2 separate regions of the Homo sapiens genome follow, and region 1 is linked to region 2. Evidence: fine-mapped expression QTL. A gene starts in region 2. The other region holds a variant in brackets. All regions are shown on one strand. Distances are between the middles of the regions.

Region 1 (5,387 bases), 610 kb before region 2:
ACTATGAACCACACATACACAATAAGGCATAAAAAAAAGCATGGCAGAGAGTAAGCAGATACTGCTCTGGGTTCAGAAATCACAGCTCTATTCAACAGTGTTTTTCTTTGCCTACTGATCTCTTTGACTTTCCAGACTCCCGAGACATATTTCCTTTCCCCTATTTAAAAAAAAAAACAGTTCCCATCTCTTTGCTCAAATTTCCCATCTATTCCTGCATGTTATCTATTTTTTCCAATAAGTCCTGGAATGTACTTAGCATAATAATTTTAAACCCTGCCTAATAATTCCAAAATTGGGCCATCTCTGTGTCTACTTCTATTGACTATTTCCTCTCTTGGCCAAGAGCGACATTTGCTTGCTCCTTCTTATGTCTTATAACTGACTTTGTGCCAAATATTTTGTGTAAAAGAACCATAGAGTGCGGTAGCTCAAGCCTGTAATCCCAGCACTTTGGGAGGCCAAGGCGGGCGGATCACGAGGTCAGGAGATCGAGACCATCCTGGCTAACACAGTGAAACCCCATCTCTACTAAAAAATACAAAAAAATTAGCCGGGTTTGGTGGCAGGTGCCTGTAATCCCAGCTACTGAGGAGGCTGAGGCAGGAGAATGGAATGAACCCAGGAGGTGGAGCTTGCAGTGAGCCAAGATTGCGCCACTGCACTCCAGCGTGGGCCACAGAGCAAGACTCCATCTCAAAAACAAAAAAAAAAAAAGAAAAAAAGAAAAGGCCTCACACCTTCTGCTGTCAGGCTGCTAGTTGACGAAGGGGACCCTGAGTCATCTAATCTATAGTTGATCTAGGTCTGAGTGTTACTGCAGCTTTAATCAGATTCAAATCACCACTGGCTTAAATATTTTGAGGGTGGGATCAGGCCTTGACCTTTTGGCAAGTCTTGAGATCTGAGCACAGACGAGATTTCAGACATTTTTTCTCTATGCTTTATGCTAAGCTGTCAGTTTTCCAAACTAGGGAATATTTCTCTCAGCTTTAAAGCACAGGAGGCTGCTTTTTAAGTCATTAAAATATTCTCTTTGTTCTCCACTACACTCCTGGTTTTTGGCACCTCTGGAGATCTCTGCACTGCTGCTCTGCTTTCATCCTTCAGACAGTGACTACAGAAAACTGCCAGAGTGCCATGATGGGATTTCTCTCAGCTCTCCTGCCCTGTTCTCAGCCTGTAACAGGCCATTGCCTTGCTTTGTGGAAAAACCACAAATACCTTAGAGAGAAGTACTATTGGCTTTTCTAGCCTATTCTTGGCCTTCTGCCTACCATCCTTCTGCACTTGAACATCCATGGGAATAACCTGGAGACTGGTGCAGGGATTGCTTTGTGGTTGGAGATCCTTATTATTCTAAACAGCCAACATGTGGCCATTCCAAATTAGTTAAGTTGGGCTACTTTCTTCTCACTCTGACAATGATAGATTCCTCCTCTTGCCAGCACTTTGCCAGGGATGAAAGCAGGCCTCAGCTTGTTCTCTCCTGAAAGGGCTTGTCACTTACTCAGCTTTATTTGTGTGTGTGTGTGTGTGTGTGTGTGAGAGAGAGAGAGAGAGAGAGAGAGAGAGAGAGAGAGAAAGAGAGAGACTGGCTCTCCTACTAGCTCAAAAAATAAAAAAATCTATGATTTTGTTTTTTACTCTCATTTTTAAGGCAGGTGTGAAGGTTCCTTGCAACTTTCTACACATGTTGAATCAGAACCTTACCCCTACTTTTAAGGCATGTTGAATTCCGAATGCATCCTTCCTCCTGGAACCCAAGGTTCCTGGCCAACCTGGTCAACTCATGTGAGCCCATTTGGTAGCCCTGGTAGCGCATATCAAGCATTTTACTGAAAGATGTCTCAGGCAAGCTCTGAGTTTGGACATCCTAGCCTACCCTGAAACTCTCAGTGGAATTCCCATATCTCACTTCATACTACTCTCAGTTCTTCAAGACTAACTGCCTATTTAATGGACTAAACCTCCCATTTCTGTCTTTACTTCAACTTTCCATTCAACAAACATTGTCTTTTGAACCTCAAATCTGGTTCCTGATTCTCCTTCTAGCCAGCCTGCTTCTCGTCACCTTCAGTGGTCATCCCTTTCAACTGAACCTAACTTTACTTCTTCCCAGCTCACTAATAGGTGGTGTTATGATTTAATATTTGCCCCCGTGTTGAAACTTAATCCCCAGTGTGGCAGTATCTTAAGAGGTAGAGCCTTAAGAGGTGACTGGGTCATGACAGCTCTGCCCTCATGAATGATGGGTTAATGTATTAATGGGTGATTATGAGAGTATAACTTGTGGCTTTATGAGAAGAGAAGAGAGACCTGAGTTAGTTCGTTCAGACCCGTTGCCAGGTGATACCCTGTGTGCCTCAGAACTCTTGAGGAAGTCCCCACCAACAAGAAGGCCTTCACTGGATGCAACCTCTCAACCTTGAATTCCTCAGCTTCCACAACTGTAAGATAGAAGTTCCTTTTCTTGTTAAATTATCCAGTTTTGGGGATTATTTTAATAAGCAACAGAAAAATGGACTAAGACATGTGACATATTAATTTATTCTTCTCTGTAGTTCATCCAGCCTCTGCCCAGGAATCAAAATTCTCAACTCTGCTCACAGGTACCATTTGAATGTGCCACCACTCCCACTTTGCCCATGGATTTTCTAGACTCAGAGCCTGCCTGCTAGTTCCTACTTTCTGGCCTATCTCTTGCATGCTTCCAATACCCCGTTCTTCTGGTTCAGTTACACTTCTGCATCATCTGCTTCATAATGGCTACTGATCCATTTTTTTTTTTTACTATTACACTTTAAGTTCTAGGGTACATGTGCACAACGTGCAGGTTTGTTACATATGTATACATGTGCCATGTTGGTGTGCTGCACCCATTAACTCGTCATTTACATTAGGTATATCTCCTAATGCTATCCCTCCCCCCTCCCCCCACCCCATGACAGGCCCCGGTGTGTGATGTTCCCTTTCCTGTGTCCAAGTGTTCTAACTGTTCAATTCCCACCTATGAGTGAGAACATGCGGTGTTTG[G/GT]TTTTTTGTCCTTGCCAGAGTTTGCTGAGAATGATGGTTTCCAGCTTCATCCATGTTCCTACAAAACATGAACTCATCCTTTTTTATGGCTGCATAGTATTCCATGGTGTATATGTGCCACATTTTCTTAATCCAGTCTATCATGGATGGACATTTGGATCAACTGTTAACATTACATCACAACATAAGAAGAGAATAAAAAGGAGGACTTTCCATTCTAGACTTGGAACCTCATATAAATAGCCATAAAATGGTTTAATTGGACACTTATAAAGACTGAACTACAAAGGATATATATTAACACAGTTTAGTGTAAAAATGAGATGTTGATACTTTTTTAGAGTCTCGGGTACAAATGAAAGTTCAGCAAAATATCTGAATTATCAAAAGCTTCATGATAGCCAACAACATGACGTCCTGAAATGTTTCTAAAGAAAAAAAGCAGTATGATATTCTTTCTGCAAGCTTGTACTGCACATACTCCCTGAAGAATTATGCAAGAATGCCACAAGTGAGAAATGAGAACTGTCAATGCACATGTTACCGTGCTCCTCCTGGTTTATCAGTGTTCAGGGTGTCCTGAGACAGCTTCCTCTGCCTAGGAGATCTGAGCTTCTTTAAGTCACATGGCAAAAGGGAGCATAAAAAATGGGGAAGGTGGCAGGACTCCTCATCCTCCTTGTCCTCACTTCATTTACCCAAGATTTCAGGCTGTCCCAGCATCTTTCCTGGACACAATTTCATTACCACAATATGAAGACTGAATTACTTCCTTGCCAAATCACACTAAGTACATAGGTTGTGAAAGTTAATGTCTGTAAAGGACTGTGCGTTCTTTGACGCAAAGGAGCTCAACAAATGCACAGTCATATTAAAATGATACATTACCCCTGTGCCTTAGCGACTAATTTAGGAGAGAAAGGCATTTCATAATGAAAATCTTCATGATGTTGTATAAGGTGTTCCTTGAGGACCGACTGTCAGTTTCCCATATTGAAAATACTGGTGGGATTGGGAGAGAGGTGGAAAGAAAAGGAAAGAAGGGGTTCTAAACTCGTTTTGCTTCTGTACCCCAGTTGCTGCTACATATAAGGCTTAGCTTTAATCATACAAAATATCCAAGGCAGAGATAGAATGAATACTGGGTTTAGGATTAAGAGGCTTGAGGGACTAGTGTCAACCATATCACATATTTGCTGTATGATCTAGGTTAAGGCACTTACTTTCTCTGAGCCTCATTTTCATACCTATAAAATGGGATTATAACTCTTCTGCCTACCCCATAATTGCTGTGAAGATGAAATAGCATATGTAAGAATGTGAAGTGGCCAGGCACAGTGGCTCACGCCTGTAATCCCAGCACTTCGGGAGGCCGAGGCGGGCGGATCACAAGGTCAGGAGATTGAGACCATCCTGGCTAACACAGCGAAACCCCATCTCTACTAAAAATACAAAAAAAATTAGCCAGGCACGGTGGCGGGCACCTGTAGTCCCAGCTACTTGGGAGGCTGAGGCAGGAGAATGGCATGAACCCAGGAGGCGGAGCTTGCAGTGAGCTGAGATCATGCCACTACACTTCAGCCTGGGTGACTGAGCGAGACTCCATTTCAAAAAAAAAAAAAGAAAGAATGTGAAGTACACAGGAAGCACAGTATGCAAACGACACAAATTCTTATTGCTGTTATATGGACCAAACACTTGGAATAAACTCTCTTGACTCTTTATCTCACCAGATTAATATACAGATGGCAAACTGAGTTCCATATCTGCAAAAAAAAACAATGCACAAAGAAAAATGTACATCTGAGTCAGCACCACCTTATGTCTGCCTAGGGATTTGATTTGCACATTTCACAATATTCCAGAAGCAAAATGTATGAGATGTGTCCTTTCTTACTTATTACTCATATGTGTTTTTATTCCCCACTTAGTGAAATTTACCTTTTATAAAACATGTAATATGATGGATAACTCAATATGGAAGAGACTTTTTATGGGTATGTAACAAACCATACTGCAAAGGGGATGATATGCTTGGCCTGTCAGTTCAGGAAAGCATAACAAGATTGAAACCACATCCTACCACCAAGAGTGGCTTACCCTAGGAATGAATGATTATTAAACATCTGAAAAATCTATTCATGTAATTTAGCGCATTAACAGAATAAGAAAACCAACCAGGTGATTGTCTCAATAGAGCTTTTAAAGCCCTTGGTAAGAGCCATGCAAGTTCATGATTTAAAAAAAAAAAAATGGTGTTGTATTAAAAGCATATTCACTAAAATCAGAAGTACTGCATATTTGCTATTAACTCACTACTAGAACTCAATAATGTATAAAAGGTCCTAAAT
Region 2 (5,387 bases):
GCTAGGCTGGAGCACACACTGGCCATTACTGAACACAGCCATATTAGGGAAAGCAAAAAAACCCAAAAAATCCTCTATTGTATATTTATTCAACAACTGTTTATGTTTCCAGGACAACTGCAAAGAAAACAAGCTGAGGTGGTTATACTGTTGCTGTTAAAAGTTGGTATCAGTAAGATTTGTGTTTTGTGATAATCCCTAAATCAACATACCACTTGTAAACTGAACTTCGAGAAAGAAACATGATGTTCATTCTGTAAATATACATGCAGACAGGTCATGTACTAATCCTAGTCCTTTTCCTGAGGTAGATTTTAAACAGTATTTTTAAAGTCCAAGACATAGGTTTTTCTAGTTTATTCCCTGAAGATCTGTTGCCACAGTTGGGAGATTTCTTCTTAATCCTGATTTTCTTGGTAAGCTTTTTTACTTTATTATCTCTATAATTTATTATCTCTATCCATATTTGTGGATCGGGTAGTGGGAAAAGAGATTATAATACTTGTCTTTCTCTCCTCTCCCTCCATCCCTCAAAAGATCTTTATGCATTTCCCACTACTCCCTTACTGTCTTTTAGCATTCAGAGAAAAAGCCAACTTGCTTAAAGAGGAATCACTTAAAAGGTAGGCATATCTAAGATGCTCATAGAAGAGGAAGAATGGGACATGGCCCCATGCTTATTTTTGTTTACAACGTAACATGGCATGAGAGAGGGCAGAGAAACTAAGTTGCTGGGGAAAGTTAGAGGAACTGAAAGTTTGGGAATAGGCTGACCACATATTATGCCAGTGACCAGTATGACAGGAGATGGGGCCCTGCTGCCAGTCATCTCCACTGAATAAAGAATAATGCTCCTCTTTCAGGGTAATAAAGTGGGGAAAAGGAACGTCTTCTCAATGCAAGAACATAAGCTTTCTCGTATATACCTGTATGCTACAGTTTTTCACATGGAATTCCGTTTTCTGAGGTACAGCACATTTTAGGTAACAGTATTTAACTTGAAATTCATCATGGGAGTCTGCTGCTATACCAGGCACAAGATAAAACTCCAAAATTTCTGTTTACATTGACCTTTACATTTAAAGCTGTTCATCCATGGTGCCTCCCCAAATCATAAGACCAAAGACCACCAAACGCAGGGTGGACTCTGCTCATTATTCTTTGACCCAGAAAGACTGGAGAAGGTATGTGCTTTAAGTGCTGCTCTACCTGAAAAGAAATCCTTTAAATTACCTATGGAAGTGATGTCCTCAGATAATCTTAATGACTATTTTGGCATTTATAAATAGAAATGATTATGGACTTTGATCTGCCATACGGAGGTTCGGAACCTGGAGAACGGCTGTGATAAGTAGGTTTTGATTGAGTGAAAGCATGAGCTTGTTCAGAGTGAGGGGCATAGTGAAAAAGGAACAGCCATGCCTCAAAATCAAATCATTTGCATTCCCACAGCATCCTGAATACCGACTACCTCTTCACTTGCTAAAGCAGCTAAACTGTGAAGCTCTAAGTGGTTTGGGTTTGTTGTTTAACCTTAGCGAGATCCTTTAACTGCAGCAATATTCAAGCCAGATATTTGGAAGCAAATGATATTTCCTCTTGCAGTGTCCACAAATCTGAATATTAGGGGCATGAAATTAGGCTTACCATCTGATTTGTAATTACAATTTTGGAATTCTCTGTTTTAGTTGCTGAGGCCTGAGTTTTCTGGCTCTTAAAGCATAGATCATTTCACCTGATGTTTTTGAAGCATCCTAAGTACAGTAGAGTAGAAAACTGATTTCTTTGTTAATTGTACACTGAATAATGCCTTTTAAAAATCAAAATAAAATTAACAAATAATGGTGAATGAAGTGAGATGAAAACTTGCTTAATTTTTGCCTTGATGAGGAGGGAGACAGATTTATCACTTAGCTTCTCAAGAGTTCCTTCTTCCTGCACAATTTTTAGAGCTTAAAACTGGTATAGCACTACTAATAAGGTCTAGCCCTATTTGCTGTCAGCAAAGTGGGACAAATCCAGGAAATGTTGATCACCTTTCACACCCACATGTATGATGAAACCACACCATTTGCCAATTGTATGGAAGACAACCAGATTCCATGACAATTTCCTGTTAGCACTGTGCTTGTAATCATAGCCAGTAGAAAAGCCCCTAGAGGAAAAGCGGCATGATATTCTGTTACTAACTACATGGAAGGATTGGAAAATGGAAACTGAAATAAGAGGGAGTGACAGACCCCCAAGTAGAAACCATGGAGTCACTCTGCCACAGCACTTCACTTAGGAAGGATTTGGTAATTACGAAATAGTGATTGATTGATTTCCCTTTTGGAATTAGCAAGCCAGAGCTATCACTAAGGGGAAATATCATAGAAAATATCTGATTGGTTCATAGAGTTGGCAAATAATCAGGAAGTGATGGAGCTTTTTAAAATTATTCCCTGGTTATTTAAAGAAGTTGAAAATCCTTTCACAAATCTTTATCCAGGAGAAGAAAATAAATTCTACCTGGACTTAATGCAGGGTTGTTTGAAAAGAAATTAAAAATTCATGATAAAGATAAGAAACATGTTAGCTTTAGAACAGAAAAAAAAAAAAGTGGGAACAGGTGGAGCTGAATTAAAGGTTAGGAAGTCAGGGAAAACCAATATGGAGAAAAAGACAAAGGTGCGATCTGTCCCAGAAGATAATGATGTGTTTGTGGTAAGTGGGGGATGTGGGGGAGGGTTGTTGAAAACCACCTGAGACTATTTAGAGTCCGACTTGAGGTTAAGGAGGGGGAGTTCATCGATCTCTTACCGCCCGGATCTGCAGCTCCACCACCACCTCCAGAGGCATCGTTCCCTGCGTGGGCGAAAGGACTGGAATGAGAAGATCCTTTTGTGCCGAGCCTTGGACCAATTTTTCTTAGTTTAGCTGAATACCTAGAGCAAATGTTCCCAGAAGCTTCCCCAGTCCCACGCCCTTGTTCCCCTACCGTCCCCCCCAGCCCAGGTCCCTCCCACCGGGACGGGTCTCTCACACTCGAAGCTGGAGTGCAGGCTTCCAGAAGGCGGAAGCGTGGCGTTGCCAGGGACACTCAAACGCGCAGTCTTCATCGTGGAACGCGCGCGAGGCCCCAGCGCAGACGCGCGCCCTCACGGTCGCTGTTGCCCACGCAGTGCCCCCAGCCGGAGAGACTGGCCCTGTCTGGCGTGCTAGACGGATAGAGAAATGCTAACAATCCCGATCTTCTTTCCATCAGCTCCTGCTATCCCCAATTACCATGTCAGAATGTTTACCGTTTTCATTCTGAAAGTAGAATGAGATCATAGGTCTGTTATAATTTAAATAGTACACGTTTAGTAGCTGCACGACCCCAAGCCTTGTAGTTTCTGTAACAATTCTCATTTAATATAGTTGCCTGTTCCTAAAAATACTCTTTTGCTTATTAAATGTTATGTTTGCTTCGGAAAACATGGCCACCGTCAATAACAAACGTGTGCTAATTAGAAATATAAGGTTAATTCTTAAACATATTTAAAAGTTAGGTATCCCCTGTTAGCAGCAATAGAAATATGTCAGTCTTTCCATAACGGTGTCCAGCCTTTTCTGGGGTTTAGTTTAAGGCAAGCATTGAGTAGTCCAATGGGTAGTTATTGCATTTGCCAAAACCACAGTTACTGTAAACACTGTCAGAGGTGGTGCGCAGAGCAAGAGTTCTGAATGAGTAGGGGACATTCACTACATCTAATAGAGAAAAATGAAGGAAAGGAGCAGGTAGTGGCTCCTTCTAGCAATCCAAAAAATCTAGGAAGGCCAATGCTGCCTCTGAAAAAAAAATTTTAAATCCTAAATTATGTTCAGTCATTTATTACTAATATTTTGCATTAGAGAGTTATACAATTGGAAATAGTGCAGAAGGATGGTCAAGACAAGATTGGGTATTCATTTTGGTAACTGGAGTTTATTTCCCTGGAAGGGAAAAACTTGGTATGATGAAGAAGGGCATATTGTATCCTTATCCAGTTCCTAGTGCTGTGTCTCTCTGCATATCAAGAGATACAGGTGGGCACCTAACTATCTATAGTGTCCAGATCATTGATTTGTCACTCACAACTTGCTGACACCCAGAGTGATGTGGGACAGGACCTGTGATGATCCTAACAGGTAGGTCACCAACACCAATGCTAAGAAATCAAGGAGAGTGACAAGCAAAACAAATTAATAAATAGCCAGAGTTGTATTGGGAGAGAAGAATCAGTCTTTACTGAGGATCTGCAAAGTGCTAGGCACATTGCGTATGCTAATTCATCTCAACCCTACAATAACTCTATCAGGGAGATATTATCCCTATTTTACAGATGCAGAATCTGAAGCTAGACAGCCTTTTACTAAAAGCCACAGACCTAATAAGGGAGCAGCCACATTTGAATCCAGGTGTGCCCTACCACATCACTGGGTCTGCAATATAGACATCCTGTTGATCTCTAGAGACACAATGTTCCATTCTATGCTCTTCTTAGTCTTAACTCTTGATCTAACTGGACTCTCCTTGCTTGGCTGCTAGGGCACAGCTCTCTTCTGGTTTCCCTCCAACTTTCTGGCTATTCTTTCTTTGTCTGTTTATCCTCCTCTGGCTAAGCAATGTTTCTAGGTCCTTTCCTTTCCTCACTCTATACCCTTTACTTAGAGTGTCATCCATTGCAGACATTGATTAACACATGTATACAGATTTACATACCCCACCAAGACCTCTCTTCTGCTGACAAGGTGGAATCTCAATATCATATCTTATGTCATACATATAAATATATATATCTCCTCTTTGTAGCGACTGCCATAATAGCAGTTTTACATTTGTTCCTGTGACTCTTGATTACTATTTGTCTCCTTAATCTGTAAACTCTGCATGGCTAAGCGTTTATACCCTAAATAGGATAGAAGATAATAAATATTTTTGAATATTAAATGCAGAGATGGTCAAGCCAATCTGTGGGGGTTAATGTACATGGATAAAGAGAGGTCCCATCACAATGGGTAAAAGAAATCTGCAGAATTAGAAAGGACCAGGCACAGCTACTTCTGCAAATCTGCTATGGTGATATTAAATGAGTTGATGGGGATACTTCACACTCTCCTAATTGTCCCCGCCATGGTTACCTGAGGCTCTCAGCTGCTGTGGAGATGTGGCAGTTGCTATACACACCCAGTCCCTCTCACTCATCTTGCAAAGTTATTTATCATTGAGGCTGTCCACCTCTGCCGGGGGCCAACAAAGCCTTTTAAGGATTGGACTGTCACCACTTCAAGAGAAAGCCTTTATTACCTGGGTAGGTACCTCTTGGTGGCAGCAAACAGATTTCAATGAACAACTGCTATTTCCAGAGAGTATCTGCAGTGCA

The links. PIP is the estimated chance that this variant, and not a neighbour inherited with it, causes the effect. A credible set is the group of variants that fine-mapping cannot tell apart.
Region 1: its variant is the best candidate, but not a certain one, in a credible set for the expression of SPATA6L in aorta (GTEx, PIP 0.88).

The regions. Positions count from the first base shown.
Region 1 is chr9:4,058,284-4,063,670 of GRCh38, forward strand. All of the region lies in intron 4 of GLIS3 (GLIS family zinc finger 3), which reads right to left. Among named protein-coding and RNA genes, the nearest start is that of GLIS3-AS1, 160 kb to the left of the region's middle. The variant G/GT (reference allele first, on the strand shown) is at 3,037.
Region 2 is chr9:4,663,410-4,668,796 of GRCh38, forward strand. It overlaps SPATA6L (spermatogenesis associated 6 like), which reads right to left and starts at 3,071. Exons shown (of 12, transcript NM_001353486.2): 1 at 2,803-3,071. The coding sequence starts at 2,841. It overlaps PLPP6 (phospholipid phosphatase 6), which reads left to right. Exons shown (of 1, transcript NM_203453.5): 1 at 1-1,849. RefSeq lists silencers at 2,860-2,909, 2,920-2,999.